2 separate regions of the Homo sapiens genome follow, and region 2 is linked to region 1. The links come from fine-mapping of genetic effects on gene expression. Tissue or cell type: whole blood. Region 1 holds a variant in brackets; the other region holds the start of a gene. All regions are shown on one strand. Distances are from middle to middle.

The links. PIP is the estimated chance that this variant, and not a neighbour inherited with it, causes the effect.
Region 2: CCDC57 starts here. The variant in region 1 is fine-mapped to the expression of CCDC57 in whole blood (INTERVAL, PIP above 0.99).

Annotation. Positions count from the first base shown.
Region 1 is chr17:82,122,243-82,124,996 of GRCh38, reverse strand. The region is part of intron 18 of CCDC57 (coiled-coil domain containing 57); the gene reads left to right. Among named protein-coding and RNA genes, the nearest start is that of FASN, 25 kb to the right of the region's middle. The variant AG/G (reference allele first, on the strand shown) is at 1,703.
Region 2 is chr17:82,211,372-82,213,871 of GRCh38, reverse strand. It overlaps CCDC57 (coiled-coil domain containing 57), which reads left to right and starts at 1,030. Exons shown (of 19, transcript NM_001394669.1): 1 at 1,030-1,087. RefSeq lists an enhancer at 1-619 and a silencer at 570-1,489.

The sequences.
Region 1 (2,754 bases):
TGCTCAGGATTCTTAGGGGCACCGCCTCCTTGCATTTTTAATTCACCACAAAACATTTTGTCCAAATTTTCATCAACTCAATGGAAAGTTCTTCTGGAGACGTTCGTGTTCATTCGTTTGCTTGTTTCCTTTCTCCTTTTCTCTTGGAGCACTTTCGTTTCTTGGCTCCCCCCTCATTTTTTTTTTCTTTTTCTCTTTTTAGAGACAGTGTCCCATTCTGTCACCGAGGCTGGAGTGCAGTGCGGCAATCTCAGCTCACTGCAGCCTTGACCTCTTGGGCTCAAGTGATTCTCCCACCTCAGCCTCCCAAGTAGCTGGGACCACAGGGACACGCCACCACGCTCAGCTAAGATTGTTTTAGTTTTTTGTAGGTACAAGGTGTCGCTCTGTTGCCCAGGCTGGTCTCGAACTCCTGGGCTCAAGTGATCCTCCCACCTTACGCTCTCAAAGTGCTGGGATTACGGGCATGAGCCACCGTGCCTGGCCTCATCTTTAGAACAGGTAAATTTTTACTTGACTAGCTATTTGAAAAAGTTTGTATGGAAAATGAAGCCAGAACCATCTTCCAGCCCAGCAGAGTCGTGTCGTTGATTTTAGCTTTAAATACAAGTCTCCACCTATCAGGCTTTTAACAGCTGATACAGCTTCTCTCTTCCCTTTCCCCACAGATACTGCACTTTGCAGATAGGGCCTGTTCTGTTCCTGGTTCACTCTCCCTCCTCTCTTCCAGGAACGGAACAAGGTCAGGGAAGCACTTGCTGCCAGCCCATGTTCCTACTCCTGAAACAAGGAATTAGGTCCTACCCTCAGGGTGTACCCTTGCCTTAGAGAAATGCCCTCTGCTCTTTCTGGGGTCTGTAACGAGGCATCTGTATGTCTTTGACACAGCCCTTGCCGAGTTCCTGCAGCCTTTGGTAGCCCCCGCCACCACCACCAATTCTAGCTCTTAGTTTTAATGAAAATGAAGTTTGCATTTTTGCTTTTCATTATCTTTTTTTTTTTTTTTTTTTTTTTGCTTTTGGATGATTTACAAGGATAGTGGAGGAGTGCTAGCTTCATGATGCCTTCTTCAAGTCTGAAATCTGTCTTGTTTTCTGACCAATGCAGCCAAAGAAATGCATATTCCTCCAAGCGTTGCTTTGCTTTAACCATGTCTCATAAATCTCAACATCCTCATGTTTCCCTTGTCTTTCCCTTGTAGGACTTATAACTCAACTCATTTTGCTTTAACTTAAATGGAATTTTTCCTTAAGTTTCTAGATTTGTGGAATTTTATTTTTTTGTCTGTTACTGATTTCTAATATTTTTACATTCTGGTCAGAGAATTAAATTACTATGATGTTAACTCTTCTGAGAGGGAAATATTAGTTCTTAAACTACAATTATCAATCTATCTGTTTTTGTCAATTGTTGCTTTATGTGTTTTGAGGTTCGCTGTTAGGTGCATACATGTTTAGGTTTTTTGCCTTCTTGATCTTTTCCTCCCTTTACCAGTATGTAACATCCCTCATAACCCCTCATGTTGTATTTCACCAAAAAACCTATTTTGTCTGACATGAAAATTGCTATAGGCCGGGCGGTGGCTCACTCCTGTAATTGCAGCATTTGGGGAGGCTAAAGTGGGAGGATCGCTTGAACTCAGAGGTTCCACACCAGCCTGGACAATGTAGTGAGACATCATCTCAAAAAAAAAAAAAAAAAA[AG/G]GGCCGGGCACACTGGTTCATGCCTGTAATCCCAGCACTTTGGGAGACAGAGGCAGGAGGATCACTTGAGCCCAGGAGTTCTAGGCCGCAGTGAGCTGTGATTACACACTGCACTCCAGCCTGGGTGAGAGAGCAAGACCCTGTCTCTACAAAAAAAAAAAAAAAAAAAAAGTTATTAGGAGGGAAGGAGTGGTTAAACTGTGCAGTGGAACGCTACAGGTAGGTCCAGTTAGGTCAGGACAGAGAAGCAGCCCCTGCTTTTTTGCAAGGTGAAGGTCACTGGTGGTCTTAAGTGTGGTCTCAGGGGGGTAGTAGAATTTTCATTCAATCCTTCCCGGCTTGGGGAGAGGATGGGAGATGGGATGGACAACATATCCAAGAAACTTTGCTCTGAAAATCAGCAGTGAAAAGAGGCCGTATTTATGAAGATGTGGAGTCAAGAGGGGAGGCTCACAAGCTGTCATGTAAAGCCTGCCGGTAGGCAGTGGGAAATGGGATGACTCAGGAGAGAAGTCCTGGAGGAGGCAGGGGAAGGGGCTCGGTGCCCGTGTGCAGGGCTGGCCTTTAATAGGACAGAGGCAGAGGTGGGCACCGAAGCCAGAAGGTTGATTGCAGCCAGTGCTGTGCACTTGCCCAGCCTGCAAGCTGACAAGCAAGCCTGGCGGGAGACAGGAGGCTCCTGGGTCAGAGACCAAGGGCTCTGTCCACATAGCAGGCAGCTGGGCAGGCAGTGGCTGCAGGTGCAGTGGGTATGCATCTCAGCTGAGGAACCCAGGCCTGGGGACCGAGTCCTAGAGCGACCACAAGCACCTGCCCTCCGAGTCCTAGAGCAACCACGAGCACCTGCCCTCCGAGTCCTAGAGCGCCACAAGCACCTGCCCTGGGCCTGAGGGAGATGCTTGCTCCGACTTCTGAGCTGCTTGCTGGACAGACGCCCTTGCAAAGGGTCTGCAGCAGTGGCCAGGGCAGCCTCCACCGTGCGGGAGTGCACAGGCCCCAGGGAGGCTGTCCCTGGTCCCAGCAGCTGGCCTGGTGGTGGGAAACGGTTCTG
Region 2 (2,500 bases), 89 kb before region 1:
GCATCCAGGGAACCAAGTCTAGGCAGAGGCAACTGGCGCAAAGGACCTGAGGCAGAAGAGGGTTTGGTGTGTGAGGCGGGACTGAGGACTGTGGGCGAGGGAGACAGCTCTACCAGGACGCATGGTTCGGGGAGGACAGGCTGCAGGGTGCCTGGGCTGCAGGCACGGCACGGAGAGGAGTGATCCAGTGTTAACAATGTGGGTGGAGGATGACACCAGACCCCTGGCTTATTGCCCCACCAGGGGAATTCCCAGACACCAAACACCCCCTCCACTCCCACGCAGAATTGCGGGCTGAGGGTTCGGGTGAGCCAGGCTGCTCTGTCCCGGGGCCGGGCTCTGTTCATCCATCCGCAGATGGATACGGACACGTGCCTTTTTCTGAGGATGTGAATGGTTGGGAATGGCTGTGCCTGAGGATGTTGTTCCCACAGGATGGTGGGGGCGACTTCGGGCCTCGGTGGGTCCCGACCCCCCTCCTTCCCCCAGTTCCCTAATCAGGGTCTGAGCGACCGCGCGCACGGCCCCTGGGCCCCGCCGGTCTCCGAGCCCGTGGGCAGCGCCGGGAACTCGTGCCCCGGTGGCCGCAGCCGACCCTTAGGCAGGACTTCGTGGCGCCCCCGGCCCGAACAGACCCCCACGGGCAGCCTCGGCCGCCCCGTGCTCCCTTCATCTCAGGGCAAAAGCTCAAGTCAACCCTTCGGGACCGCGAGCCGGGCGGCCTCAGGAAGCGGGCGCCTGGGGACCCTCGGCCGGGCCGGGGGCGGCGAAGGTGGGGGCGCCTCGCGCGGCGGAACCCGCCGTCCCCATAGCCCGGAGCCCCGTCCGGAGTCGCCCCGCTGACCGGTGAGGAGGCCGGGCTCCCTCCTTCGATCTGCGGCGGTGGTCGGGTCGGCCGGGGCGCCCCTCGGACCCGGGCGCAGCGCGGAACCCGGCGGGGCGGGAGGGGCCGGAACCTAGCGCCAGGGACCCCGTTTCCTGTCGGCGGGACCCGAGCGCTGCACCGAGCGCAGCCGGACGCGGCCGACTGACCCGGTCGCTGTGGCAACGCGGCGGGACCTGGCCAGCGCTGCTGGCGGGCGTTAGGGTGAGGTGCGGGCGGGCGGCGTGGGAGGCGTGGGAGGCGTGGGGGGCGCCGCTCCGACCACTCTTCCTGTAGAAAACCCCAGCAGCTGCCGTCCTGTCGGACGCAGCGCTTTGGTGGGGACCTGGAGCGCGAGGTCGACCCTCAGAGCTCGGCCAGGCCCGGACCGGGGATCCCCTCGCGGAGGCTGCGGCGGGGCGGGGCGGGGGTTGCGGCCGCGTGGAGCGGGAGCGTTCCCTCGGTCTCCCGTGGGTGACCTGGGGCGGTGGGCGCTGCCGACCAGGGCCCCGCAGCCCCGGGAGAATTCCCCGGGTTCCGCCGCCGGCAAGGACGGCTCCGCGCCCAGGCAGCCTTACAGTGTCTGTGAGTTTAAAAAAAAAAAAAAAAAAAGAGAGGAAAAAAAAAGGCCGGAGGCGGTGGTTCGCGCCTGTAATCCAGCACTTTGGGAGGCAGAGGCGGGCAGATTGCTTGAGGCCCGGAGTTCGAGACCAGCCTGGCCAACATGGTGAAACCCCCTCTCTACTAAAAATACAAAAATTATTGGGCGTGGTGGTGCACGCCTGTAATCCCAGCTACTCCGGAGGCTGAAGCAGGAGAATCGCTTGAACCCGATGTTGTAACTGAGGGAGTTATAGAGAGAACGCCACACTCTGAGACTACTCAGGAGTCCTGTATTGCCAGCGACTGACAGACTGCTAGAGCTGCAAATTCCCTCGGCCCCGAAGAAGGGGCTAGATTTCTTTTGATACCTTGGTCTAAATAGAGGAGGGGAGGCTAGCTGAAGCGATTTTTTTACAGAAGCAGAATAGGCAAAAAGTTAAAAGATAAATGGTTACAGAAACAGTTACAGGAAAATAAACAGTTCCAGGTACAGGGGCTTAAATTATCACAAAGTGATAAACGCAGGGGCTTTGGGTACCATCAACCGAGCGCGTTCCCAGGAGCTGCTGGTACAGCTTGCTCCAGTTTCTTATCAGTATTTTATCAGTAAGCGCATTCCTGGATGTGCTTGGAGTCAGCTTGCCCCAGTTATGTCCTTAAGGGACGGGGACAAGGGGCTGCAAGCGAAGAAACCAAAATGGTGTCTGTCCGGCCCTCTCAGCTAAGAGAGAGTCAGTCAGGTTAAAACAAAGTAGGGTACCACACCGAGAGGCGCAGGTTGCGGAGAGCCAAGATCGCGCCATTGCACTCCAGTCTGGGAGACAAGAGCGAAACTCGGTCTCAAAAAAAAAAAAAATTATCTGTAACTTAGAAAAAGGATACAAAAGGAGCACAGATTTCCCGTGTGCCTTTTGCCCAGAGCCCCTAGAATGCTGACCTCTTAGAGAACCACAGTTCATTCAGCAACATGTAGACGCTGGCGTTCATGTTGGTATCATCCCATGATCTGGTCTCCAGTATTTATTCTTGCTTAGC